7 linked regions of the Homo sapiens genome follow. The protein of the gene in region 4 interacts with the protein of the main gene of each other region in a pairwise test. Each region holds a gene or a part of one and is shown on either strand. Other genes may lie near its edges. The genes, in order: SEC22A, SDR16C5, BSND, GAD2, PLIN3, CPLX4 and DGAT2L6.

What was found.
Region 1: the proteins of GAD2 (region 4) and SEC22A interact in binary tests that used the Homo sapiens proteins (3 or more experiments, as listed by UniProt).
Region 2: the proteins of GAD2 (region 4) and SDR16C5 interact in binary tests that used the Homo sapiens proteins (3 or more experiments, as listed by UniProt).
Region 3: the proteins of GAD2 (region 4) and BSND interact in binary tests that used the Homo sapiens proteins (3 or more experiments, as listed by UniProt).
Region 5: the proteins of GAD2 (region 4) and PLIN3 interact in binary tests that used the Homo sapiens proteins (3 or more experiments, as listed by UniProt).
Region 6: the proteins of GAD2 (region 4) and CPLX4 interact in binary tests that used the Homo sapiens proteins (3 or more experiments, as listed by UniProt).
Region 7: the proteins of GAD2 (region 4) and DGAT2L6 interact in binary tests that used the Homo sapiens proteins (3 or more experiments, as listed by UniProt).

What each region holds. Positions count from the first base shown.
Region 1 is NC_000003.12:123,222,443-123,226,601, reverse strand, and holds part of SEC22A (vesicle-trafficking protein SEC22a), read right to left. Parts: intron 3,044-4,159; coding exon 2,880-3,043; intron 1,500-2,879; coding exon 1,305-1,499; intron 1-1,304. UniProt on the Homo sapiens protein: May be involved in vesicle transport between the ER and the Golgi complex.
Region 2 is NC_000008.11:56,306,370-56,310,528, reverse strand, and holds part of SDR16C5 (epidermal retinol dehydrogenase 2), read left to right. Parts: intron 1-1,501; coding exon 1,502-1,601; intron 1,602-3,708; coding exon 3,709-3,853; intron 3,854-4,159. UniProt on the Homo sapiens protein: Oxidoreductase with strong preference for NAD. Active in both the oxidative and reductive directions. Oxidizes all-trans-retinol in all-trans-retinaldehyde.
Region 3 is NC_000001.11:54,997,667-55,002,391, reverse strand, and holds the start of BSND (barttin), read right to left. Parts: upstream 3,460-4,725; 5' UTR 3,206-3,459; coding exon 3,029-3,205; intron 1-3,028.
Region 4 is NC_000010.11:26,289,368-26,293,526, reverse strand, and holds part of GAD2 (glutamate decarboxylase 2), read right to left. Parts: intron 1,063-4,159; coding exon 955-1,062; intron 626-954; coding exon 536-625; intron 1-535. UniProt on the Homo sapiens protein: Catalyzes the production of GABA.
Region 5 is NC_000019.10:4,846,691-4,850,849, forward strand, and holds part of PLIN3 (perilipin-3), read right to left. Parts: intron 1,201-4,159; coding exon 1,001-1,200; intron 1-1,000. UniProt on the Homo sapiens protein: Structural component of lipid droplets, which is required for the formation and maintenance of lipid storage droplets. Required for the transport of mannose 6-phosphate receptors (MPR) from endosomes to the trans-Golgi network.
Region 6 is NC_000018.10:59,315,775-59,320,695, forward strand, and holds the start of CPLX4 (complexin-4), read right to left. Parts: upstream 2,876-4,921; 5' UTR 2,689-2,875; coding exon 2,522-2,688; intron 1-2,521.
Region 7 is NC_000023.11:70,200,952-70,203,971, reverse strand, and holds part of DGAT2L6 (diacylglycerol O-acyltransferase 2-like protein 6), read right to left. Parts: intron 2,083-3,020; coding exon 1,908-2,082; intron 1-1,907. UniProt on the Homo sapiens protein: Diglyceride acyltransferase that uses fatty acyl-CoA as substrate. Particularly active with oleate as a substrate. Has no wax synthase activity to produce wax esters.

The sequences.
Region 1 (4,159 bases), on a different chromosome or scaffold from region 4:
AAGGGATTAATAACTAGAATACACAATGAGCTCAAACAACTCTATATGAAAAAATCTAACAAGCCAATTAAAAAATGGGCAAAAGATCTGAATAGACATTTCTCAAAAGAGACATACAAATGGTAAACAGGTATATGAAAAGGTGCTCAACATCACCGATCATCAGAGAAATGCAAAACAAAACTACAACGAGACATCATTTCACCTCAGTTAAACTGGGTTTTATCCAAAAGACAGGCAATAATGAATGCTGGTGATGACGTGGAAGAAAGGGAACACTGTTGGTGGGGATGTAAATTAGTACAACCACTATGGAGAACAGTAGTAGTTTTGAGGTTCCTCAAAAACTAAAAAGAGAACTATCATATAATCCAGCAACCCCACTGCTAGCTATATACCCAAAAGAAAGGAAATCAGCATATCGAAGAGACATCTGCATTCTCATGTTTACTGCAGTATATTCACAACAGGTAAGACCTGGAAGCAACCTAAGTGCCCATCATCAGACAAACGGATTAACAAAATGTGGCACACATACACAACAGAGTATTATTCAGCCATAAAAAAAGAATGAGATCCTATCATTTGCAACAGCACGGATGAACTGGAGGACATTTTATTAACTGAAATAAACTAGACACAGAAAAGAAAAGTTTACATATTCTCACTCATTTGTGGGAGCTAAAGTTTAAAACAACTGAACTCATGGAGATAAGAGAGTAGAATTTTGGTTACTGGAGGATGGGAAGGGTAGTGGGGGTGGGAGAAAGGGTGATGGTTAATGGGTACATAATATAGTTAGCTAAAATGAATAAGATTTAGTACTTGATACCACAATAGGGTGACTACAGTCAACAATAATTTATTGTACATTTAAAAATTAACAGAGCACAACTGACATGTTTATAACACAAAGAAATAATAAATGCTTGAGGTGATGAATACCCCATTTACCCTAATGTGATTATTACACATTGCATACCTGTATCAAAATATCTCATGTACCCCATAAATATATTACACACCGAATATGTACCCATGAAAATTAACTTTTTTTAATTTTAAATTTAAAAAAATGTTTTTCTAGCAAAGAGATCCTCTGAGGTTGCTATTTGAAAGTATTTTCCCGATTAGTCACACATCTGGTAGCTTACTTTATAAATCACTGAAAGGATTGCTTTGAACTTCTATATTCTCTCATGTACTTGATTTAAAATATTAGAATAAAGTAATTCATTTTCAAGAGTTTCTCAGTTTTTCCCAAGGATTTTTTTAAAATAAAATAACTGAGATCCAGAACTCACCAGAAGAAATCTTACCAGCACCTTTACAGTCAACAGAAAATGCTGATGTGACTCCATTGGCTGACCCCAGTTCGCACATGGAAATTTGATAAGGAGGCCTCAGCTTGATTTCCGTCTGCATGTCAGAAAGATTTATCTTTGTTGAAAGAGACCTGGGATTATTATATCGCTGCTTGGTCCTCTGAATGAAGTTATCTATGTAAAATAAAAAATAAATTTCCTTGCAGTCACTTGTCAATTAATCATTTCAGAATATGATGTTTATGGATAGTAAATATTACAGGTAGTTTATTATTCAAAATTGTTCAATTCGTCATGAAATAGTCCAATATTACTTGTGTTTAATGATTAATGTATCATGGAATCATCAGTTTTACCCTCTAGAAATCAGTAATTTTAAATAAACTAAGGATTTAACACTACCTAAGTGTATTACATCCACTTCAAGAAATTACAAAAACAAAAAACAGCTTTAACTTTAAACCAAAGTCTTGAATTTTTTTTTTTGAGACAGGGTCTTGCTCTGTCACCTAGACTGGGGTGCAGTGGTACAATCATAGCTCACTGTAACCTCAAACTCCTGTGCTCAAGTGATCCTTCTGCCTCAGTCTCCCAAGCAGCTGGGGCTACTGGTGTGAGCCACCATGCCCAGTTTATTTATTTATTTTTGTACAGACAGGGTCTATGTTGCCCAGGGTGGTCTCGAACTCCTGGCCTTAAGTGATCCTACTGCCTCGGCCTCCCAAAGTGCTGGGATAAAAGGCATGAGCCACACCACACCTGGCCCAAAGTCTTGATTTTTATAGAGATTCCTATCTCATGAAATATTAAATCTGTCAGATTTACCAGCTGCAATTACATAAGAACACACACTAGAAGTTGCATGTTTTTATAAATCTGTTTTTTATTGCTTACACCATTAGAATGTAGGTTTTAAAGAATAAATTGAATAAAACTAACATAAGACATTTCCTAAATATTTTCCAAGTGGAATTTTATTTTTACTATTTACAACATGGTGTTTTTTTTTTTTCTTCTACATCAGAAGTTGAGCAAACTACTGCCCACAGGCCAAATCTAGCCTGCTGACTATTCTGTAAAGTTTTATTAGAATATAACTGCACTCATTTACGTACTGCCTATGGCTGCTTTCGAGCTACAACGGCAGGGCTGAATAGTTGTGACAGGGACTATATGATCCTTAAAGTCTAAAATATGTACTATCTGGTCCTTTCCAGCAAATGTTTGCCATCCCCTATTCTACATGAAGCAGACTATAAAAGATTATTACAGAAACGCAAAAGTCTGAATCTCTGGCTTATAAATTTCTCATTGAGAAGTTATCCTCTGGCATTAATTCTTCGGACCAATACTCACAATCCCCTTCACAGCTCAAACACAATTTTTTTCTAATAAGCATCTAAGTAAAAAGTTACCATAATTTATAGATCATTTACCAAATTATTATATCAAAAGCAAGATAGCAGAAGTCCCCCCTCCACCCAATATTAGATTTAAAATTGCTTATGATTGGATGCAGACAGAATAAAAAGGAAAAAAAAATCAGGCCCTTACCAAATTCAATGAAACAGTATGGTCTGACAGCAGTATTTGTCTTCATCATGTTATAAGTAGTAATGAACTCCTTCTGAAGCTCATCCAGGAAAGAGAAGGCGAGAACATTTGGGTAATTTTCAGTGCACAACATCATGTAGCTCACTCCCAGAGAGCTAATAAAACTACAGTGTAAAAAACATTGGTTTTAAAATTTCAAATTAAATCAAGGTAATTCACTGCTTCACAAGACTGGTTCTATACACCATAAACTGCTACTACGGTGGCAATGAAGATCTTAACATTTATTATATATTCTAGGAAAAAATTTAAAGGAACCAAAATACAGCACTATTTTAAGTTGTGGTTTAAAAACAGAAGACAAAAAATAGAATGTACTACAGAGGGACACACAATACGGTTCTAACATTTCAGTTATCACTTGGGGTAAAAAGCAGGGGAATGGATATACAAATGTATTGTAAGTATTACAGATAGCTTAAAGTCTAACCCTTCAATATGTTTTCCACTTTTGAGTCCAGAACCCTTTCAAGATTCTGATGACAGGAACACTCTCCCTAGAAAGATGCCAGAACACAGAAGATTGCACACAATTTCAAGGTGATCACTGACCTCTTGAAGTTATCATTGACACACCCCAGAATCAAATCCTCTACTTTACACAGTAATTAATTATGAACCATGGGAGGGGGGAATTTATGAGTTTATATAAAAAACAAAAGGAGAAATGAGGGCTATGGCTTAAAGCAGAATGCTGAGTGTTGACTGGTAAACGTAGAGGAAGTGCTAGCAATGGAAAAATCAGCATTTTGCAACCAACATAGTAAAGATTGGATCAGGCAAGGACAATCATGGATGTTAAATCTAGGGGGAAATTTTTACGGGTTAGTATATTTGCATGGTTTTAAAATGTCTTTCCATGGATTGTTTCTTAGTTGCAAGGGGAAAATATTATACAGTAGAAACTAGGTAACTCCTTCACCAAGTACTCTCTAACATCATTCATGTTAGATGGACATTGTGTGTCTCCAGATGTTATATCCTGAGAAAGACACATCAGCTATATAATATTCTGAGAATGCATAATTTGAATTTAATCATTAAGAAAACACCAAAATGATCAACATTCTATTTTTGAAAAGGAAAAAGTGTATTCTTTAAAAGTGCCAGGGTTGTAAAAAAGAAATAAAGGATGTGGAAATGTTGCCAATCAAAAGAAGCTAAAGAGGCCGGGCATGGTGGGGGCCTGTAATCCCAGCACTTTGGGAGGCCGAGGTGGG
Region 2 (4,159 bases), on a different chromosome or scaffold from region 4:
CCAGGCTGGTCTCCATCTCTTGACCTTGTGATCCGCCCGCCTCAGCCTCCCAAAGTGCTTGGATTACAGGTGTGAGCCACTGCGCTTGGCCTGGCTTTGTGTTCTTTTCCTACCTCTCTGTTTTTCCCCAGGTGCCTTCATGGTGTCTGTCTCTCTCTTTTCTTCTTTTCTTCTTCTTCCTCTTCCTCCTTCCTCCTCCTCCTCCTTCCTCCTCCTCCTTCCTCCTCCTCCTCCTTCCTCCTCCTCCTCCTTCCTCCTCCTCCTCCTTCCTCCTCCTCCTCCTTCCTCCTCCTCCTCCTTCCTCCTCCTCCTCCTTCCTCCTCCTCCTCCTTCCTCCTCCTCCTTCCTCCTCCTCCTCCTCCCTCCTCCTCCTCCTTCCTCCTCCTCCTCCTCCCTCCTCCTCCTCCTTCCTTCTCCTCCTCCTTCCTCCTCTTCCTCCTTCTTCTTCTTCCTCCAACTCCAACTCCTCCTCTACCTCCTCTTCCTCTTCCTCCTCTTCCTTCAGTGCTGGTGTTTCCCTGGCTCCTACCACTCCTCATGTCATCTCACTCCCTTTACTTCTTCTGGGCAAGTTCATGTACATTCTTTGAGCATCTGCACATTGCCAGGCACAAAGACAGTGACTTAACTGCTAGAGCGTCCAAGAGCTACCTGAAGGCTGGGCTCTCAAAGGCAGTGTCCCTACTGAGAAGTGTCCCAACTCATGGCAGACCCCAGAGTGTTTGCTGCACTGCTTCCTTTTGCTTTGTTTTGATTTCCCACCTCTCTCTACCTGTTAGTTTCTCTCTGAGACTTATTGCAATGCAGGCAAACAAGTGAGGTTTGGCCTTTGTAAGAGATCCCTTTTCTCACCTCCTTGTCTTTGGTGTGATTAGTTACTCCTTTGATGCAGAAGATGTCTTCCTTAAAAGCTCATTTCTGTCTCTTTTACCTTCTTTCTCCAGGCCCCCAATCAAGGGTGAAGGTGTTGGACAGAATACAGATGTGTCCTCTTTCTAATAGATATTCTGTTTTACGAAATGGAACAAAAATAAGAGATGAGTTTAAAACAAAGTGCTCTTTTAAAATTGAAGTCAACAGCCAGATGTCCTGTGAACAATGTTCAGGGAAAATTTGAAACTCAAAATCAAGCTAAGCAGAGAGAAGGCAATCTAAATCTAAAGCATCATGTTTGTGAGGTTTGGGGTTGTGGCTGCCACAACAAAGATTTACTCCTTCAATTCTTGTTTTAATATTGTGTCGTTAAAAGTCAAATATGAGCAAAAACATAAGTCTGAATAAATTATTTTAATAATACTGGAATTGCCATAAAAAACTGATTTAACAGGTTAAATAAGTTAAAATGATTACTTTCCAGATGTTTAAGTTTTTATATCCCCATACCTTCAGATATTTTACAGGCTGAAAAAAAAAGATTTTTTAATCACAATGAGTATATAAATATCTGAGAAAATTATACAATGTGGCATTAAACATTAAAAGTTTTCCTTTGTATTCTTAGACTTATAAAGCCTTTCTACCTGCTATGATTGCTAATGACCATGGACATTTGGTTTGCATTTCAAGTTCAGCTGGATTAAGTGGAGTAAATGGGCTGGCAGGTAAGAAAAACATAGCAATTTACAATTGCAAAATTCCCTATAACTTTAACTTACACAATAGCTCTGAATAATTAGCACTGACTTGATGCCCTAAGATAAAGGATAATAAACTAAAAAGTATAGTCAATAAGTGGTTGATAACTTCATCGTGTAGCAAAACTGCCCATCAGATAGACTTACATGAAATTGGACTATGCCCTTTGGAATCATTAGGTCTTATGCAGTACCCTGTGTTTAAAAGAGAGAGAGGCCTCACTGATAAATTTTTTGCACAAGTGATCAACAAAACAACTGTCCACCAAAGTTCACACTGACACTGTCACAGATGGTAAGGAGGATGACCCTGTCTTCTCCTGAAGTTTCCTTTAAGTGGTCTCCCCACTGCTGTGAGTTTGGATAAAGTTTCTACACCTCAAGATACCTAAAGTTAACTGCTTTGTTTTTCCACTGGTTGAAGACCTGCAGGAAGTGGTGGGCATTTTCATCTCCCTTGCAACAACCAACTGACTTGACAGTAGCAGTGGGGAGAGGGCAAAGAGATCCTTCAAGACCCTCAACCAAGGAGGCCCAACTTGGGAGCTGGCTCTAGAAGGAATAGAAATCTTGACCTAACCTACCACAGCATCCCCTAGAGGAAATGTCCCAAGTCCTGGCTTACAAACATTGCTAAAACTCATCCAACAGAACTGTAGCAGCAACATTCGGATAACAGATAAGCCAGTTTGCCAGTTGGGTGGTTCCTAATGCTTTTGAAGCAAAGTGGCGTAGTTCAAGATTCACAAAACCAGTCTTAGCTCAGTATATCTATTACATGAATAGGTTTTTCAGGACCACCAGTCACCCCAAATATCACCAGTCTATCCTCCTTATGACCCAGGACTTCCCTTCCTCTCTCCTTCTTAGAACTTATCAGGTATTATTCTTACCTCCCTCTTATATATCTGTTGTCACGGGCCTTTGAAATCATTCAGGTATATTTACAGCTCCTTATCAATCCTTTTCAGACAGAACATTCCTGTCTTGAGATACAGGACTCTCGCACCTGCAGCTCATCTTAGAAACAAGTATAAGCCTTTTGTATTTCCCACCGTGTGAGTCTTTACTCCCCTGCATCAGAACCACCGGGGTGCCAGTTTAGCATGCAGATTCCTTGGGTCATGGGCCATATCTGCTCATCAGAATCTCAGGGGTCAAGGGACTCAGCTGCATTTATACCTGATGACTCCAATGACCCTAGAAGCTGCTCTGGACTCCTCGTCCCCCTTCCCAGTCTCTAGCCTCTGACCCACTGTCTGGACAGCACTAGGGCTGGACAACCCCACGCCTGGCGCTTATAAACTGGCTCTTGCCAGTTGCAGTAGCTGCACCGTAACATAGCAAGTTTAAATATGCCTCCTCTGAATGTGTGGAGCAAAGGAAAGTGTTAATGTACCTCAATGCCATTTCTTCTCCAAACTTCTTCACTTAGTCAACTGAATAGTCAGATGTTTTGTTAAAACAGGTATGATTAAAGACAAAAAGCTGAAAATGGACACAAATGCCACTTTCCACTCCTTCCTCTGCCCCCACCCTACATTTTCAAGGTATTTAAGAGGTGGAGGTTGAAGCTACCAAGCCCTTTTTTTTTTTCTGGAAGTGAAGGAAAGAGTTATAGTTGGAAGAAAACTTCATCTGAGAATCACAACCCATGCTGGCCTCTCTTGCCTAGATTCCTATATCACTTAGTGTTTTATTTCTTCTTTTGAATGTCTTCATGCCCCAATGGGATTGCAATTTTTTGAGACAAGGCACCATGTAAGAACTAGCACAGGGGCTCACAATGCATTTACTTGTAAGTAAAGTCCAGCAGTGTGACCTGAGACAGGATCTCTGCAGCCCTTCTTGTGCTGGGCTCTACTTGGTCATTGTCAACTGACCCTGATCTTCAGTTAACCATGTCCCTTCCCACTCCCTGCTCACTTCTTCCAGTGGGAGTAGACCAAGATTACACAAAAGGAGAACTCTGAAATTGTCTTATTTTCTGTCGCTGTTAGCGTTATGGGTAAACCTTAATGTAATGCCATTTTAAAACTTTGGAATATACGTTATCATGCTTTGTCTTTTTCAGATTACTGTGCAAGTAAATTTGCAGCCTTTGGGTTTGCTGAATCTGTATTTGTAGAAACATTTGTCCAAAAACAAAAGGGGATCAAAACCACGATTGTGTGCCCCTTTTTTATAAAAACTGGAATGTTTGAAGGTTGTACTACAGGGTAAGTATGTCCTTTAATTTCAAAGAATCTACACTCTTAAAAATGTTTTGCTATTTTATTTTGTTCTTTTTTTTAAGTTGTTTAAAATATATTGTTCTGGGATTCAGTATGATTTATAAATGGTTTTAGAATTCTGTCTTTCTTAGTATGTGTTTGTGTGAAGGATACCAAGTTGAATGGGAATGGTTTATCAAGGCAGTGTCTCTCAGCTCCCCCAGGCCCTGGATCTGCTCCTCCATTTCCCAGACTCTCAGGGCCACATCCCCTTCCTGCCATCCAATCCCATTCTGCTCCCTCTCTGATTCC
Region 3 (4,725 bases), on a different chromosome or scaffold from region 4:
TGCCACTCCTTTCCCTGCTCACAGCTCCCCTGCCCCATCTTCACTAATGGGCTCAGCACCTCCAACTGTCCCATCCACTAGATTTGCCCTGATCCCTTCTCCTCTCTCATGCCTGAGGCCCAGCTGACCACCAAATCTGACCAGGTCTACTTCAGAAATTCAATAAGATAACCTGGGTGGAAGTGCTGGTGCTATGCCTAGCCACAACGGGTACTCTATGTGAAGTGAACTGTAAATGTCACCTTAGTTCCTACAGCTTTGTGTTTGAATTCTGCATTATTCCAGATGACTGTCAGCTCTCACCAAGACCAGAGAAGAAGCCTCCCCACTGGTATGGCTGCCCCCAGACCTTCCTTCTTCTGGATGTCTTTCTCAAACTGCAAAGCTGGTCGTGTCCCATTAACTAAAGGACAAGCTCCAAATTCCTTACCATGGCATCCCAGGCCCTGAAGAGTTGAGCCCCACTCCCTCGCTACCTTTACCTTCCTCCCCTCTGCCTCTCGTAGCCACAATGGCCCACTTGCCTTATTCTTTTACCACATTGCTTTGATCATGCTACTCTTCTGCCTGGAATGTCTTTCCCCATCTTCTCTGCTTGGTGAACTCTTATCTCACCTACAAAGCCCAGCTCACCTTCTCTGTGAAGCCTGTTTCCTCCCCATCAGGCAGCAAATAGCCTCTCCCACTAGACCTCTAGCCCCTAAAAGACATGGACAGCTTAATGCATGTTGGTATTGGCTACCCCTCACCCCTATATCCTAATTAGCTAATTCTATTCCCTTATATTTATATCTCCCCATTTATCAAAACTTTCCATAGGTCTGGCACAGAGAGCCACGGGGAGGAGGCTGAGGGGAGGACAGGCAGGAGCACTGCAGGCAGCGTTGGCCCAGGCACCAATGAGACCAAGCAGGATCCAGGGAGCTTCGCCTCTAGAGTGTCTCCCTGGTTTATAAGGTGCTTTCCTCCCTTCCCTTATTGGAGTCAATTTGTGCTGGCTCTACCAGCCTGCATCTCTGAAACACACACTCACACACACCTGCACTCATGCAGAGGCCCACCCAGTGCCGCAAATACCAATCCTCAATCCTAAGAACAATGCCTTCACATATGTTCCATGGCAGGTGTGATGCCAGGTCTCCCCCAACACACACACACACACACACACACACACACACACACACACACACGATCCCACTGTGTTCTCCCAATCAGCCGTACAAGGCTCAGAGCTGAGGGGGAGGGACTCTTTCTGCCAAGGTCACAGAAGTGGGACATGAAGGAGCAGGGATTTGAATCTGGGCCTGGAGGTTGCCACAACATGTGCCATTTTCAGCCCACCACGCTGCCTCCACAGCACGTGAACCCATGAATCTATCAACAGTTACTCATTAATACCCAGCAATATTCCCTCCTCCCCTCCCCTCCCCTCTACCGTCACTCCCATCAGCCTACCAACCATCCCAGAGCCAGCTCTATTTAAGAGCGGGGGCAGGAAGGATGCTCCTCTCCACACCTCTGCCATCCCTCTGCTGTCCCCCAGGGTCCAGCCTCCTCACTGGGAGAAGGATTATAATAGCAGTGGTGACATGAGTGGCTTTGGCCCCAAGGACTTCTCCCAGTGACCTCTGCTCAAGGAATTGCACAGACAGAGGCAAGTTGACTGTAAACTGCCTGCTAAATGACTACAAACCAGCCCAGACCGCTCCAGCACTGAACAGAATGACAGCCCAGGGTTGGCCCGTGGAGGGGGCAGGGCTGGGGAGAGCCGGCCCAGGCCCCAGGGAGCCATCCCCCTTCTTCCCTGAAACCCTGAGCACAGCCACCCAGGTGGGAGGAGAGGAGGTGTGGGGGTTGCTGAGGACTGCCTGGACCTGGAGCCCTAGATATTAGGTCCAGCAGGGCCCCCAGATATACCCCCTTTCCCACCCCCCCCTCCTAACTCACACAGTGTACAAATGAGGAAACTGAGGCTCAGAGAGGAAAGGGGCTTGAGCAAAGTCTCCCAGGCAGTAAGAGACAGAGCCCAAGTTAGAGTCCCTATTTCCCTCCTTTTCTCCCTGGGTCTGTACCTGACCAGCTGTGTGACCTTGGAAGTCACCCAGCCTCTCTAGGCATTGAAGATTCGCAACTCCTGGCATTTCCATTCCACAGAGCTGTTGGGAGGATCAGTATGGGTAACAGTGGTAGCCCTTCATCTATAAATAACACCTTACAGTTTACAAAATATTCCTATATCTTATCTCTTCTCTGATCTTTATAATGACCCTGTGAAGCTCTGTGGAAAATAGGGGCAGGGATCTCATTTGCAGATGAAAAAAATGAGGCTCAGAAAGACAAAGGTCATAGAGAGTTTGGAACAGGACTTGAACTAGAACTCAGGACTCCCAAACCAGTGCTCTTCCCATCACTAAATTACACATAAGGCTGAGAATACATGAAGACTCTAAAGGATACTGCCCAGTGCATGCCACCAAGGTTAGACCTGACCTACCCTGGAGCTCTCAGTCGCTCTGGGACCCAGAGGTAGAAGACCCAAGGTGAAGGGTGACGTGTAAGTCACACGCATCTGAGCTCCAAACCTTGCTCGTTAGCTGTGCAGCCTCTCTTTCTGGACCTCAGAAAGGCTCAGAAGGTGGAACTACAGAAAGCACCAAAAGGCTTAGGATGAGGGCTGAACTGCACCCTGAACGCAGGAGTGCCTGGCAGGGGGTCAGCGCTCATTAGCTTTTGTTTCAAGCACATGGTGTGTTGTGTTTGCTGTGTCTATACCATAGCTTCCGGCTCAGGGCTCCAGATCCAGGGGCCTTCTGATCAACCCTTAGGCTAAGGGATGGATGGATGGATGGATGGATGGATGGATGGATGGATGGGACAGACGCTCAGGAGAGCAGAGAGAAGACCGAGTCAAAATGAGAAGAATGAAAAGACAACTAAAGGATAGGGGGTGAGGCATGGCATACAGGCACAGTGTCCAGCCCTCCTGGCCCCAGCTGACCTGGCCCCACCCAGCCCCACTACCACCTACCTTGGGGTAGCACTGGCACATGCTCCAGATGATGCCCCCGATCACCATGACGCTGCCCATGGCATAGAAGGTGCCGTAGACCTGGGGCCGATCATGGCTCATGAGGAACGTACCGAGGGCCAGCAGGAAAAGCCCCAGCACAATGAAGCCGATCCGGAAGGTCTTCTCGTCAGCCATGGCTGCCTGGCCAGTCCCTGGCCTGCACACCCCCGGGAGAGGGGGTGGCTGTAGTTCAGCCTAAACACCGAGACAGGCTTACACAGGGAGAGAAGACACTGAAATCGCTGCAACTCAAGGCTTCAAGGGAGAGCAAGATCCCTTTCAATCCCGCTCCAGTCCCTGGGCCCACCAGTTCAACAGGGCTGGAGGCGGCTCGCTTCAACGGACCCACACCCAGCCACCTTTACTCCTTGCCCTCTCACCTTCCCTCTGGGCCCGGCTGGCCTGGAGTGTGTGTGTGAATCTGAGCGAGGGAGCACACAGGGGAGGGAGAGTGGGAGGTTACCGGGGCTGGGCCCCAGCCAAGGCTTTGACATCACCTCATTTGCCTACTGTGGGGTTGAGCTGGGTGGACAGGCAGCCTCACACCTTCCAGCTCTAGAAAACAGGGTACAGTTCTGCAGCTGAGAGCTGTTAGAATGCTATTGGAGGATTCCAGGATCCCACAGGCTGGCATTTCAGAATCCTGAAGAATTCTACACTCTTCAAGGACATGTGCCTATCCAGGGTTCAGGAATAATGGCCCATATGTACTGGCTGGTGACTATGTGCAGGGCACCATTCTAAACATGTTACAGCTATTAACTCATTGAAGGGAACCCAGTGAAGCAGCTACTACTATCCCCACTTTACAGAGGACCCTCGGGCACAGACAAGTAACTTGCCCAAGGTCACACAGCTAAAGATGGCAGAGCTAGTGGGATGTGAAGCCAGAGGCCGTGGGCCTAGCCACGGCGTGATACTTCTTAACTGCAGCTTGAGGGTGAAAAGCGTGGCTCTGGTGGCAAGGCAGGCTGCCTGGGTTTGGATTCTGGCTCCTCTACTGTGGGGCAGTGTGGTCATGATCAGGTTACCTCAGTTTCCTCCTCTGTAAAATGGGAATAATAATGTACCTCCCAGATTTGGTGCTGTCTCCAGGCCTGGCCTCCTTGGGTTCCTCCATCCCCTTCACATTCACACGCTATGCACCACCCAGTTGGGCTTTCAATGAACTGCTCCCCACCCACCCCTAAGGCTCTCGGAATTAGTGCCCCTGCAGGGTGTGAGTGACTGACAGTCACTTCCTCCATTTCCTTGCAGCCTGATCTAGGAAGATGCCTTCCTAAGAATAACACTAATGAGGCATTTTAGTCCTAGGGACAGGCTGATGGAAGAAATCAGATTCCTTTACAGGATTACAGGAAAATGAGGACCATCGGTCTCTACAAGAGAATGTTCACTTGGCGTTTACATGGGGTTAAATCGCCGATGCAGGATAAAAGGCTTTCAATGGGCTCCCTGACTTGCTGGGCTTGGGGATTTCCTGTTGGCGGTCATCACCTTCTCCCCTCCTGCCAGCAGGGCTGCCCTTGTTCCCTAACCCCACACCTGTGCTCACAGCTGCCCCTCTAACTAGACGTCCTTCTCATAGGCCCTTTTTCCAACAGGGGTTTCTCCTTCCTCACACCCACCATCGCCAGCCCTCAGAGTCCAGGTGC
Region 4 (4,159 bases):
AAACTCACTCTCAGAAAACAAGCAAATAGAGTTGTTAAAAGTCTGCATAGGCCGGGCACAGTGGCTCATGCCTGTAATCTCAGCACTTTGGGAGGCCAAGGTGGGCAGATCACCTGAGGTCAGGAGTTCGAGACCAGCCTGGCCAACATATTGAAACCCCATCTCTACTAAAAATACAAAAATTGTCTGGGCGTGGTGGTGAGTGCCTGTATTCCCAGCTACTCGGGAGGCTGAGGCAGGAGAATCGCTTGAACCCGGGAGGTGGAGGATGCAGTGAGCTGAGATCACGCCACTGCACTGCAACCTGGAAGACACAGTGAGACTCCATCTCAAAAAAAAAAAAAAAAAAAAAAAGAAGAAAAATGTCTGCATATATCAGGCTCTATATGTCCTGGCTCTGTAGGAGTCCACAGACGGGAATGGGCCCATGTACCCAGGTAGGCTGTCTCCTAAGGCCACAGGCATATGTCATAAAGAAGATGTGCACATGAAAGGCTCAATACACACATGTATCAGAGGAGCTTGGAGCACTGACCTTCGAGAGGCGACTCATTCTCTCTTCATTGTCTTCCAGAGTACGCAAGCTTGGAGGAATGTACCAGAAGCAGACATTTGTGTGCTGAGGCTACAAAGAGGAAAGGAAGATTCACATTTGGCCCAGGCTGGCAATTTTGAAAATTCCAAGAACATTTCAAATCGATGTATTCAGCAGGTTCAGAACACAATTCCCACTTTTCAATCAGGAATTGCCATTGGAGGGCATGATTTTGACAACGTTATATGGACCACTTTGAGAGTTTCGTCTTTATTCCAGCTTGGAATAGCTACCCCGTCATCCACTGCTCCCCTCTGTAATCGTCCCACTTACCTGGACAGCACATCATTTACATCATATCAGTGATGAGGGTTGGAATTGACTAAACTTTCTGAGATTGTAGAAATCCAAATACATACCTTCCCATCAAACACCATCTCATATCCTTCTCGGTTTTTTATGATGTTGTATAAATACTCTGCCAACTCCAAACATTTATCAACATGCGCTTCAAACCCGGTAGTCCCCTAGGTAAGAGAAGGACACAGCTCATTAAGCAGGCTAAGAGTGCGGAGGAAGCGATTTCCCTGGAGACTGACCGTCATCCTGCCGTCTCTGTCTTAGCCCCGTCTGGCACTTTCTCAACACAAGGCTGTTTCCAAAGGCTTTTTCAGCGCTATTTTCTCTTCAATGCTCTCCCCGTCAGGTGCTTTTGTTCCCTTTCATTACTGCTTTCTACACGGAACTCCTTTTCTTCCAGAGCCTCCATTCCCCAGGCAATTAGTTTGACTACTCAAGAGGAAAATGTGCCTCTGCTATTCATAGGAATAATCATGGAAGTCATTAATAACAGGAGGGCTGAGCTACTCTCTTCCTGCAGATAAAAAGCATCACCAGAGACCCCCCAGAATGCCTGCTTAGTTCCCCTCCAACGTGCACATTTTCCATTCCCAGAGCCCATCTTTGTCTGCCAGTGTACCTGATACAGAAAAAATTGGGTAGGTGCTCACTGACTTCATTGAACAAATGGATGCAGGAATTTTAGGGAGCACCCAGATGCTTTGTTAGCCTGTCGAGCTCTGTACAGTTCTCCTTTGGGGGCAGATAAATGACTCACGTGTCTGTAATGGGTGAACATTATCACTGATTTCTTTTAGTTTCTGGCTCTGGAAGCTCTGAATCCAGACTTGGGAAAACCAACACAACAGTCTTGGACTGGAGCTGTTTAACTGACATCGGGACACACAAGAGAGTTACTTTTCAAAATGGCTTTCCTCTTATCTCCTTGGGTGTTTACTGGGTGCTGATGGAGAAAGCTTAAGAGTAAAAGCCAGTGCTCATCTCAGAAGCACTTTGAACCTGCCTACCAGTAACTTCTCCAGCAGAGAACCTAGAGAAAGCAATTGTAATGGAGATGAGATGGGCCCACTTGCCTGTTTCATACAAGATCACATCATCTCAGCTAAGGGGGCCCAACATAGCCCAGTGACTTGTGACATCTGAAGCAGGTTTAAGAACAAGCTGCCCTGGAGATATCAAATGGGTTCAGAAATTCACTTCTTTGGAGACTGCTCCCCCAGGTAATCGGCTCAAGGAGGCTGATGGGTTCCTGATGCCTCCCCAAGAAGAGCTTGGGCTGATGCCTGATGCTTGGCCAGCACCCATACCAGGAGCTCTCTGCATCTATGGGTGCTAAGGAGATTATAATTGGTTTGGAATGACCTGACAGTTTGGGTTCACTTGGGATGGACTGTAGGTAGAAGTGAGGGAAGCTAATTGCTCTTCTCCAACCTGGATCCTTTGGACCAGTCTGGAGTTGGGTTTAAACTTTTGCATATCTGATCTAGGATATGGCATGACCAGCTTGCCTCTGACCCTGTCCAGATGAATGGCTTTGGCCAACTCTCTGATCAGATGGGAATGATGATGCCTCTCTGATTTCCCATGAAGAAGAGTTTGCACTGCAACAGCAATGGGATTACTAAAGACCTCTGGTTCCCCTGGTCTGGGACCTTGCTATGGGGATGATCATGGGCCATGTGACTGCCCCTTTAGTTGGGGGCTAAAGATATACATGGGGAATGACACAGAAAACTCTAGTGTGCCCTGGGTGCCTCCCGTTCATATTGAATATTTATGGGATTAAGATCCACATTTTATTTTCAAGGTTTTGAAGGCTTTTAGGAGATTCTTCAAAATTCTTTCATTCATTAAATACTTCAGCAATCTCACCATCCAAGTGTTCAGCTGCTGCCTCTATGTGGTCTTGGGGTTTGACATCTTGAGAGCTGGTCATGATCATTCTCCACTTCTTGAAATGCTTTTATAAACATTCACAGGCCCCAGAGACAGTGCTTTTGAAATAACTACCGAATCCCTTGCTGTTATCTCAATTTTTGCTGCTATCACCCTAGTTCAGGCTCTGTTACTTTTCACCTGGAACATAGCTCCCAAGTCGCCCTTCAGTCAATTAGACTTTCCCTCACTTTCATAATATGCACTGAACTCCTGCTCAACCACTCCGTGGAATGGCCTTCTCACAGCACTGCTGGGTGAAATCCTACTTCTTCTACCTATCCTGTTCAAGTCCTATCTCAAAGGTCATCTCTTTGTGAATCATCTTGATTCTTAAACCAGGAATGAGCTCTCCGTCCTTTAAATTCCCCAGATGTGTCTGGATTTCTTTTGTGATCAGTCCTAATCTGTCTTTTATGATGGATTTCTGTGCATTTATCTTATCTTGTCTGGAAAATGAGAGCCTTCTTATCCCATTCAGTACTAGACACGATAATAGATGCTGAATATCTACTTGTTAAAATAAATTAATATTTTAGAGAGAAAGTAAACATTCATTTTCAGCAAAGGATGCCAGATGTCCATTTCCCTTTAATATTTTTTTCCTGGTATTTTTTTTCACAGCCATTTGCCAGTCCCTCTGTTATCCACATTTTTAATTAGAAAAGCTAATCATAAAAAAACCACAAGGAAAACTGACTATTTGTATGACTACATACAAACACAGAGATTTGCTATGAAACCTTGGTTGTTATAAATGAAGTTATTCCTGCAGGCCTGAAAAGGGAATGTAGGAGAATCGCTTGAACCTGGGAGATGGAGGCTGCAGTGAGCTGAGATCACGCCACTGCACTCCAGCCTGGGCAACAGAGCAAGACTCCATTTCAAAAAAAAAAAAAAAAAGGTGGGGGGGAGATGTAATTTTAAGTTTATTTACTTATTTTTGTTAGCTACTGAGTTTTAGCCACCGTAGAAATCTGTCAACATTGGGAAATAATCATTAGGTCCTAGGATTATTTAATAAAATGCAGACAAAATGAAAGGCCAACTCCGTAAGAGGAGAGTCAACGGTAGGCACTGGGCCTTTGCTGATGATAATAAAAATCCATATCTTAACCAGCTAGTATGCCGCTTAGCAACCTAAATCAGGGGTCTTATTTTTTGCATAAATTGGTTCTAATCAAGTTAATTTGGACTTAATATGATGGCTGTCATCAGTGCATTTAGCTCCATTAGTCATTAGCAGATTAGTTCAAAGAATAATTTATACTTAGGCTATTTCTCATGGGGTTTATCTTAGGAGAAAATGTGGAAAACACCGAATTCTCC
Region 5 (4,159 bases), on a different chromosome or scaffold from region 4:
TCCGTTCAAAGAAAAAAAAGAGATTAGGACACAGACATACACAGAGGGAAGGGACGACCACGTGAATACACAGAGAGAAGATGGCTGTCTACGAGTCAAGGAGAGAGGCCCCAGAAGGACACTCTGATCTTGGACTTCCAGCCTCCAGAAATGTGAGAAAATAAATATCTGTTGTTTACATTTCCCAGACAGTACGAATTTTTTTTTTTTTTTTTTGAGATGGAGTCTCACTCTTGTCACCCAGGCTGGAGAGCAGTAGCATGATCTCGGCTCACTGCAATCTCTGCCGCCCGGGTTCAAGCGATTCTCCTGCCTCAGCCTCCTGAGTAGCTGGGATTACAGGTGCCTGCCATTGTACCTGGCTAATTTTTGTATTTTTAGTAGAGATGGGGTTTCACCATGTTGGCCAGGCTGGTCTTGAACTCCTGACCTCGTGATCCACCCGCCTCAGCCTCCCAAAGTGCTGGGATTACAGGCATGAGCCACCGCACCTGGCCACGATTTTTTTTTTTTTTTTGAGATGGGGTCTTGCTCTGTTGACTAGGCTGCAGTGCAGTGGCACAATCATAGCTCACTGCAGCCTCCAACTCCTGGGCTCAAGCAATCGTCCCACCTCAGCCTCCCAAGTAGCTGAGATTACAGGCACGCACCACCACAGCCAGCTAATTGTTTTAAATTATTTTTTGTAGAGATGGGGTCTTGCTATATTGCCCAGGTGGGTCTCAAACCCCTGGACTCATGCGATCCTCCTGCCTTGGGCTCCCAAAGCACTTGAGGGACTCACACAAAGAGGTGTGAGCCACTGTGCCCGGCCCCAGACAGTGTGGTTTGTGGCAGCATCCTGAGCAAATGAGTGTACAACCAGATACAGTGCCAGGAGCAAGCGGGAATGGCCCTGCCAGCCTGCAGAGGGGTGAGCAATAAGCCACTGAGCTCTGGGTGGGTGTCTGCTGCGGGGTGAAGGCTGCTGGCTCAGGGCCCCGACCCCCTGGAACCTCACCAGGCTTAGGACCTGCGACAGCTGCAGCAGAGCCTCCTGTGCCCTCTGCTTGGTGGCTCGAAGCTTGCCCAGCGAGTGCTCATAGGCGTGCTGCCGCAGCCTCTCCGACAGGGAGCCCAGACGTACGAAGTAGCTCTGTTCCTGCCGCTGCTGCTGCACGGACGCGACGTCAAAGCCATCCAGGGATGTGGCGATGCGGGCTGCAAGGAAAAGGAGAAGGGTCTCTGTGAAGACCAGAACACACAGCTGGGCTCGTCCCATGCAGACAGTCCCAAGAATCACACTGTCCAGTTTATTTATTTATTTATTTAGAGATGGAGTCTCGCTCTGTCGCCCAGGTTGGAGTGCAGTGGTGTCATCTCGGCTCACTGCAACCTCTGCCTCCCGGGTTCAAGTGATTATCCTGCCTCAGCCTCCCGAGTAACTGAGATTACAGGCGCCCGCCACCATGCCCAGCTAATTTTTGTATTTTTAGTAGAGACGGGGTTTCACCATGTTGGCCAGGCTGGTCTCGAACTCCTGATCTCCAGTGATTCATCCGAACTGGCCTCCAAAAGTGCTGTGATTATAGGCGTGAGCCACCACACCTGGCCATGCTGTCCAGTTTATAACCCAGTTCTACTTCTTATAAACCTCGAAGGCCTGGGAGCAAAGGATTCTGCCTTGGTTTTCCCTATCTGCAAAACGGGGATAAGGAAAATTAAACCTCACAGGAATCAGAGACCTTAGACTAGCAGGAGGGTCTCAAGCTATGGCCTGCAGGCCAGACCTGCCTTGGACAACCTGTGAATATAGGCCTGAATGTTCATTATGCAGTCCTGCAGAGAATAACAGCATTCCAGCCAGCAATACATCACATATACTACAGAGGTCCCATAAGATTATAATACCGTAGGCCGGGTGCAGTGGCTCATGCCAGTAATGCCAGCCCTTTGGGAGGCCAAGGCGGGCAGATCACTTGAGGTCAGGAGTTCAAGACTAGCCTGGCCAACATGGCACTACCCCATCTCTACTAAAAATACAAAAATTAGCCAGGCGTGATGGCACTAGCCTGTAATCTCAGCTACTTAGGAGGCTGAGGCAGGAGAATCGCTTGAACCCGGGAGGTGGAGGCTGCAGTGAGCCAAGATCACACCACTGCACTCCAGCCTGGGTGAGAGTGAGACTCCGTCTCAAAAAAAAAAGAGAATAATGACATTTCAGCCAACAATGGACTGCATATACTACAGTGGTCCCATAAGATTATAATACCATATATACCGTATTTTTCCTGTACTTTTTCTTCTTTTTTTTAGACAGGGTCTCGGTCTGTTGCCCAGGCTGGAGTACAGTGGCACGACCTCAGCTTACTGCAGGCTCAACCTCCCAGCTTCAAGCTATCCTTCAACCTTGGCCTCCCGAGTAGCTGGGACTACATAAAGCTGGGACTACGGCAAGACACCTGGCTAATTTTTGTACTTTTTGTAGGAATGGGGTCTCACTATGTTGCCCAGGCTGGTCTTGAAATCCTGGACTCAAGCAATCTGCTCGCCTCAGACTCCCAAAGTGCTAGGTTTACAGGTGTGAGCCATTGCACCTGGCTTCCTGTACCTTTTCTATGTTTAGATCTGTTTGTTTTGTCGGTTTTTATATTTTGAAGTACAGTCTCGCTCTGTTGCCCAGGCTGGAGTGCAGCGGTGCAATCATAGCTCACTGTAGCCTTGAACTCCCAGGCTCAAGTGATCCTCCTGTCTCAGCTCCCAAATAGCAACTGGGACTACAGGCGTGCACTAGCACACCCAGCTAATTTTTAAATTTTTTGTAGAGATGGGGTCTATGTTGTCCAGGCTGGTCTGGAACTACTGGGCTTAACTAATCCTCCCACCAAAGTGCTGGGATGACAGGTGTGAGCCACCACGCCTGGCCTCATCCCATGTTCGTAGGTTCATATGTGTATATGCATGTATTTATTTACTTATTTATTTATTTATTTATTTTTTTGAGACAGAGTCTCACTCTGTTGCCCAGGCTGGAGTGCAATGGCATGATCTCGGCTCACTGCAACCTCCGCCTCCCGGGTTCAAGTGATTCTCCTGCCTTAGCCTCCTGAGTAGCTGGGATTACAGGAATGTGCCACCATGCTTGGCTAATTTTTGTATTTTTAGTAGAGATGGGGTTTCACCATGTTGGCCAGGCTGGTCTCAAACTCCTGACCATGTGATCCAGCTGCCTCAGCCTCCGAAAGTGCTGGGATTACAGGCATGAGTCACCACACCTGGCCTTTATTTTTTTTGAGATGGAGTTTCACTCTTGTTGCCTGGGCTGGAGTGCAATGGCGCAGTCTTGGCTCACCACAAGCTCTGCCTCCCAGATTCAAGCCATTCTCTTGCCTCAGCCTCCCGAGTTAGCTGGGATTACAGGGATGCGCCACCATGCCTGGCTAATTTTGTATTTTTAGTAGAGATAGGGTTTCTTTATGTTGGTCAGGCTTGTCTCGAACTCCCGACCTCAACCTCCACCCGCCTCAGCCTCCCAAAGTACTGGGATTACAGCCATGAGCCACTGCGCCCAGCTGCATGTATTTATTTAATCCTGCTCCTACTGTACCCATGCTTTTTTTTTTTTGAGATGGAGTCTCACTCTGTCGCCCAGGCTGGAGTGCAGCGGCCCAATCTTGGCTCACTGCAACCTCTGCCTCCCAAGTAGCTGGGATTACAGACGCCTGCCACCGCACCTGGCTAATGTTTATTTTATTATTATTATTTTTTTGAGACGGCGTCTAGCTCTATTGCCCAGGCTGGAGTGGAGTGGCATGATCTCGGCTCACTGCAAGCTCCGCCTCCCAGGTTCATGCCATTCTCCTGCCTCAGTCTCCCGAGTAGCTGGGACTACAGGCACCCGCCACCACGCCCGGCTAATTTTTTTTTTTTTTTTTTTTTTTTTTTTAGTAGAGATGGGGTTTCACTGTGTTAGCCAGGATGGTCTCGATCTCCTGAACCTGTGATCCGCCCGGCCTTGGCCTCCCAAAGTGCTGGGATTACAGGCGTGACCCACCGTGCCCGGCCTAATTTTTGTATTTTTAGTAGAGACCGGGTTTCACCATGTTGGCCAGGCTTGTCTCAAACTCTTGACTTCAGGTGATCTGCCCACCTCGGCCCACCAAAGTGCTGGGATTACAGG
Region 6 (4,921 bases), on a different chromosome or scaffold from region 4:
AGACTTTCCGTTCCTGGTCTGATTATTTTGGCGCTTTTGTTGAAAATCAAATAACTATAAACCCCATTGATCGATTTGTTGATACTAATGCCACGCAGAGTTACATTCCAGTCCTCCAGAGCCAGTCTACAAATCACGCAGAAAAGCTGGTTGCTCTGTTTATAGTCACATGCAGCTAGCTAGTCTCCCCCCACCAAGTAAAGTGTAAATTCCTGCAGAAGAAAACCCATCTCTTCCATTTCAGTACATTCCTCACAATGCTATGCTCATACTAGGGGTCCAAACAATTACTGAATAAAACAAAGGTCAGAGTCAAGTTACAAATGATATTGTAGAAACTGTTGAAGCATAACTATGGCAAAGAAGCATTTTAATATAATTGAGAAAATGGCGGGAGAAACAGACTATTGTTTTATTTCCTTTCCAGATAGTCTATTTATGTTTAGACCTCTTTCAGTACTAATGTTACCAGTGGTGCGTGCGCACACACACACACACACATTGAACACAGAAAGAAAATAAAAATGAATGTGCATTATTAAATAGAGTGCATTGCTAAATAGTTTTTTATTTATAATTCATATAGTCTCCCCACTTCCTACAATGATGAGGATGGGTTTAGGAGGCTTTCATTTGCTAACATTGATTTTAATTATTATATATACTAAACTGTTTGTAGCTCTCTCTGCGTTTATCTTGTGATGAATTATTTTTAATGCCTACTACATATTGCATTCTAGGTGGTGAAATTCTTGAAAACTCAAACAATGGACTGAAAGTCATCCCTCTTTATCATAGGGAAGCCAAATGCTCCATTGTCCTGACACTATTTCTTACATTGAGTGACTACATAAATATATAATATTCTCACACACATATGCAAAAAGCTGAGTAGCTGACAACTCAGTCTGCTGATTGACTGTATGATTTGGCCATTTTGAGCTTTGATCTGTCCAGATATAAAATTAAGGAAAACTAGGACATTAGTTAATCAAATAGATGCCTTATCTGCAATCGGATCTGCTGCTTGAACATATTAGGTGATATTTTGCATGCTCACAACTGTAGTCTACATTTCTGTTTTCATTAGCCTACTTGATCTGAGAATGTTTGATGCTGATTTTTGTCTTCTATCCTTCATTACACAGTACTTATTTTGCTTTTAAGCTTTTTGTTCTTTTGCATGCCATAGGTAAAATCAGCCAATATTCAAGGAATGCTGCTTCTTTTGCCCAAGTCTTAGCACCATCATTTTTGCTAGTTGCATTGACTGTTTTTTAAAAACCAACTTTAAGTTACTGCAGAACCAAGCATAATGTATTCTAGGTAGTCTATAAGCCATGATTTCTTTCAGAAAAATACAATAGACAAGGTTTCCACTAAACGTAGTCTTTGTACTTTCTTTGTTTCCTCCAGGTCATTAACCTTTTCACCTATAATCATCTTAGCGATAGGATTTAGGCAACTATTATGTAATTGATCATTAGCAAAAGAGTCCTGGTGGCAAAAAAGAAATACTTTTCTTTTGAAACATATGATAAACATTTAACCTCTAGATTGATGTTTCATTTCTTAACTGATTATTAAAAGAATCTTAATTCTACCTTAAACATTTAAAAATTACACAGAGATTACATTTATTTCAGAATCAGTCTTCAAGTGGTGAAAAGTTGTTGGTGATATTCACATTCTATAATACCCAATTAAATGTTGCTTATATTTTATATTTTATTTTTGTTATATTTTATATAGCCAAGAAAATGCCTTTATTTTTTGGAGGAAGGTGGCTGAAGTATTTGGGGGTGAAGTACATGACATCTGTAATTTACTTTAAAAGCTATTATCTACCATCTATCTTTTTAATCTTTAAGCAAATGTAGCAAACTGTAAGCTGTTGATTTTATGTCATAGGTATATGTGGGTATTTGTCCTACTATTCTACTTTTCTGTATGTTTAGAATTTCCATATTAAACAGTCCACAAATCCATTCATAGTCTTTGATAAGCCAAGTCTTATGACATAATTGTCATGTTATGCTTCCTGGGTTTTTTTTTTTTTTCTCACATGCAAGATCAAAGAAGCTGCCCTCTATGTTATTTTAGGCCCTTTTCTAGGTATAAGGTCTGAATTCTTACAATTTGAAGACTTTCTACGTGCTAAGAGGGTGAAGTTTAGAAAGAATGTAAAGATAGTTAAACCTACCACTTTTCATCTAAATAATTAAATTGAGGTCAATCAAAACATGCCTAGACCAGAAAGTGTTAAGCTGCTTTAAGAACAACATATAGATTCATTTATTATTGTTCATTTCCATTCATACATGTAGAACATAGAACATAGTAGCTGCTGATGTTAGGGAACCGTTTACTTTAGAAGAACAACCTTTCCTTGGGTTAGAGGTAAACGGCAAAAGGAAAGGCATCTTAAAAAGCAAAGAGAAATAAACTGGAGAACTGAAGAAGGTATGGCCAGAATGAATTTCCTTTGCTTTTTAAGGGAAATGAAATAGCATGTACTCACTTCTCCTCAATCATTTGCTTTTGATACTCCTCATACTCCTCTCTAGTCATCCCTTGAGCTGCTGCAGGATCAGATGCACCTCCTTCTTCTTTATTTTCTTCAGACCCACCACCAAATCCTAAATTCTTTACCTGGTTACTTATCATACTTTTCATAAGGAAAGCCATTTTCTCTGCCCCAGAAAAATAAAACCAAAATTCAGACAAAAGCTGAAAAAAAAAATCCAAACAAACCCAAGAGAAAACCTCCAAATATTCTCAATGACAGCAATACATTTAAGAGCAAAGGACTTTGCACAACCTCATCTATTCAAGGGCATACTGATAGAGAAGAGTGGTTTGTCGGCCGTAAGCTGGATTAAAGTGGTGAACTCCTTAGTATATAGAGGCAGATGGTTCAGATTACCGAAGCATACAATCAGAGGCAACTGCCTACCTTCTGAATTAATACACTCAGCTAATTTCACAGGAAAAAGAAATCCCCACATCATCTACCCCTTTCTAAATTTTTAATTATAAGCACAGCAGGGCTTCATCAAGAGTCCTGTTTCAATTAAATTAATCAGAGCTGACTGATTATATAGCTGTTGTGGAATTTCCAAATTCCAGCCCTTGAGCAAAACATCCTGTTGAAAAACTGAGTCCAATGAGACTCAAAACCCAGAATGCTTCATTAAGCAAAAATAATCCTTTCGATCCATCATTTTATCTCATTGGACTTTAAGTACTATGCAAGGATTTGCTTTTTAGTTTGCTTGAATTCGGTTTGCTTCAATAGTTACTGTGTCCCGCACATAAATACACAACTGACAAATGCAAAGACCCAGACAGCAGGTCCTTGGTTTACATCTGGAAGATTATCTTAGCCTTCTCCTGCATGGAAATATTACTTGTCTATATGGAAATGATGTGCTTGACACTTCAAGGCTCTGATCCAGAAGGTAAGACCATTATGTGAGTCAAATCATCAATATGTAAGGGGTCACCTTTTTTCTCTTGCATAAAGAGTGCACCTCCTGGGTGCTCTATTTAAGCTCACTGGTGTACTTGGATGAAACTGACAATGTTTTGTATCCCACCAGATTCTCTATGGCTGTGGTTTTCTTCAGGTCAAGGGAAGAGTTGAGTATGGCTAAGACTTCAATCTACACTAGTATCTTTCTAATTAAAGCCTGCCAAAGAGGGTGGGGTGGGAAGGAAGAGATGTAATCCATTGTTATTTTATCTGAAGGCATGAGTCCTCTCAGAAACCAGGTGATTATCTCTCTGATCATATAGAATTACATAATCTGGATTCTTGCCTAAAATGCTTGCTTTATATATTTTATCGTCTGCTTTCCCTTTTAGTAATCTATTTTAAAATGCTGCTTAAATGGTCTCAATATGAAAGGCTAAAAAAGATAATTTAGGGTGAAATATAAGCTGTACTCAGGGCTTCGAGGAGAATGCCCATCAATATTGAGTTCCACTTTCTCTTTTAGATGGGTTGCTTGGAACTTAACACGTTCATACCATTATCTCTAAATTACCATTTATAATAAACTACATTGCAGTCCACTGAGGAATGTTACTAATTAATGTTGTCTCATAGAACTTTTCAAACCATAAAATAAAAGCCACAGCCTTGTGTTTCTGTCTGTTCGGTCTACATTTTATTATAAGTAATTATTTAGATTTATTATAAAATCTATTCTAAAAATTCCATTGTATGAGGAATTAGGAAATATTAATGGTGAGGGTGTCAATTCTAAACTCCAGCACCCATGTGTAAAGGAGTTTCTCCCTGTCCCGTCCTTTTCTGAATGTATGTTTGTGTGGAGGGGGTTAGGAAGAGGGGGTGTCATGCATTATGGGGACTCTTCGGTGGTAGCTTCAGCAGGGTCGCCGTGGAAGGTCTCCTGAGAGTGCTTTATGAAATCAAATATCTTATTATTTCCTCAACAGGTAATTCCATTGAGAATGAGGTCACGACTTAAAAAACTTTTTACTCCTTGATTTATTACAATGACCTTTGCCCTTGGACATCCAGGAACTACTAGCTGGTGTGTAGGATCTTTTTTTTTGGAGACAGCCTCACTGTGTTGCCCAGGCTGTAGTGCAGTGGCAGGATCTCAGCTCTCTGCAACCTCCGCCTCCTGGGTTCAAGCGAGTCTCCTGCCTTAGTCTCCCGAGTACCTAGGATTACAGGCATGCGCCACCATGCCCGGCTAAGCTTTTGTATTTTTGGTAGAGACAGGGTTTTGCCATATTGGCCAGGCTGGTCTTGAACTCCTGACCTCAAGTGATCTGCCTGCCTCAGTTTCTCAAAGTGGTGGGATTATAAGTGTGAGCCACCAAGCCTGGCTGTAGAATCTTGTAGAAATGGTGGTAGAATCTTCCGTTCCTTCAGAAAGGGGAAATG
Region 7 (3,020 bases), on a different chromosome or scaffold from region 4:
GCTTCCTTACGGCCTTTTTGCTCTAGCCTTCCCTCCTTGGCTAGCTTTCCCTTTCCCCACTCTTTCCTTGCAATCTGCTTAGCCATATTAAGTGTGCCTCATACTCTCTCATCTCTGTGTCTTTGTACATTCTGCTCCCTCTGTCGGAAGTATCTTCCTTCTTCCCTCTGTCTTTATGTGGCTCATTCAATTTTGCACTCAGTCCCAATCTCATCCCCTTAAAGCAACTTTGTTTGACCACTTCATTTCCCCCAACGCGGATTAGGTACCCCTCATCTAGTGCTTACCTCTCTTCTACACTAACGCTGCCCCAACCGTGTATTATAGTCATCTCCTTACTTGCCTGACTCCCCCAGTAGACAGCAAGCCAATCAAAGGCAAGAACTGGGTCATATTCATCTTTGAATCCCTAGGCCCTGGCATAGCACTTGACATGCCATAGGTCCTCACTGAATGCCTGAGTTCTTTCTCCCTTTTGGTCTGCCTGGCAACTCCTACCAATATTTCAATTCACAGTTCAGATGTTACCCACCTATGAAACCTCTATTCTGGGTCAAGATCTTTCCATAAATTGGTGCTCACGTGGCACTTTGTACACATTTCCATTGTAGTGTTCCATTTATTTAACAAATATTAAGCTCTTTCTATGTGCCAGCACTGTTTTAGGCCCTGGAGATGCATCAGTGAATACAATGGATTTTTAAAAATTCTGTGTTCGTGGAGTTTACTTTTTCTGGGAGGAAGACAGACAATAAACATTGAAAATAGTTGGTAAACAAATAAATAAAATGGATGAGCTATAAGAAGATAAGTGTAACCGGCAAAAAATAGAGCAAGATGGTCAGATAACTGTATTGAGAAGAGACATTTGAGCAAAGACTTGAAGGAGATAAAGGAATGAGCCAAGCAGTCATTTGGAGGAATAGTGTTCCAAGGGAACCGCTAAAGCAAAGACTCTAAAGCAGGAGCGGGTGGCCTGCTTGAGGGACCGCAAAGAGGCCGGTATAGCTATGATGGAGTGAGAGAGTGGGAAGAGAAGTGAGTGATGAGGACAGAGAGGCAGCTATAGACCAGATTATTCCGCGTCTTGCAAGCCCCTATAAAGACTTTGGCTTTTACTCTGAGTGACATGGGAGCCATTGGATTATTTTGAGAAGTGACATGATCTGACTCATGTTTAACAGGATCATCCTGGCTGAAGCTGGGAATAGACTCTTGGGGTGGGGGAGGTGGGAATAGATACAGGAAGAGCAGTTAGAAGTGTTGTAATCAACCAAGGGGAGAGATGGTGGTAGTAAACCAAGGGGTGGTAGCCTAGGTAGTAAGTGGTTGGATTCTGCAGGTATTTGGTAATTATATGTGCATGGGTCTGTCTTCTTCCATATTGGACTGTGAGTTTGCAAGGACCAGGTCTTATTTACTTTTATATCCTAAATGCCTAGTACTATGCCTGATATACAGTGGGTGTTCCGTAACTGCTGAATGAATAAGGTCTATTTCTCAAACCAGATTGTATGCTCTTTGGGGTCATGTCTTATCTTTTTGATCCTCACGGTATCAAAGCTAGTGCCTCCCTTGCAGTTGGTAGATTCTTAGGGCCTCTCAGTTAACAGGTTGATATAGAGTGAAGCCCCGCTTTCCCAGACCTCCAGCCTACCAGGCCAATGGGCAGAAAGTAAAAGGTTTTCTTCTGCTGTTCTTTCTCCAACTTCAAGTAAGAAAAGTGCCCACTGAAATGTATCTGGAGGCCCAAACATCCCTAAGGCACAATGTGAGGGGGTAGACAGAAGGAATTAGAGTGAAGATGGGGGCCCTCTAACAGGTGCCCAGGGAGGGCACCATTCTGGAGAGGGCTACAGAGGGCCTATGGCACCCTGACAACAGAGCACTAGAACCTTGGAACCCACCCTGTTTGCAGTGCCATCTTCACAAAACCTTTACGCTGCTTGAGGAAGAGAGTGGAGGCTCCTGGTCGGCACAAGAGAGCTTCAGCAGCTCCACCCACCACAATAACCACGGCATTGCCTGAGCCTTTCTGGGTCAGCAAGTACTTCAAGGCTGAGCTACTCACAGGGCACACACCTGTGAAACCAAAGAGTCAAGTGGTAGAAAAACTTCATTCCTGAGGATGGGGTAAGGGGTTTTCCCAGGCTCTTCCTTTTGGAGACAGTTCTTCTGTTTTCTGACTATTGCTGTTTCCACCTTTCTGTCTCTGACCTTCGTGTCCCGGGTTATGACTGCCCTAGCCTAAGATTGGTCCTTAGGGTCAGCTGTTTGCCTTGGGGGTCTGTGCTTCTGCAGTTGGGTCTATACTGAGCTCCTCTGCCTCCTACCATCCATAGCCTACTGCATTTCAGATCAATAGTATCTAAGCCCACCTCATCCCTCTCTACCCATGAAGCACAGCCATCTTCCACTCTGCCCAGCCTGACAACACTGGAGATCCTCCAGAGTTCTCTCCTCCAGGGGTAATCGAGACTAGCCACCACCAACCTGCTTCCTCCCTAAGAGTAACCTGCCAAAGGGAAGCCAATGGCTGGGGTTTCTGGAGAGTAGGCAGACCCCTGAGCCTGACCAAGCCAAACTGAAACGTAGATGAATAATGGAATGTGAATGACACCCTGTTGTTTAACAACAATCATCTAGCCTTTCTCACTTCTGTCTCCCATCTTTGCCCTGCGCTCACCTTCTATTGTCTACTGTGATGGCAGAAATTGCCTCCAGACTCTAGCCATTGAGAAGTATTCCTGCTCCAGGGCCATGCTAACCTCAGAGCAGAGTAGAAGCATCCTCTGGGACTCTAGTGGTCCCACCTGGCCCCTCCACAGAAATGTATCTTACCTTTGGATGTTTGGCTTCAGTTGTTTTCTGGTGTCCAGAAGGATGACTATTTGTCCAGAGAGAGAGACATTTGTCACAGTGCCCTGACTTGAAGCTGAGCATGGGGAAGTTGTTCTGGATACTCTGATGAACTCCTATCCTTTATCCCTTAGTATTTTATGCAAGTGTGAAGGGGTTCC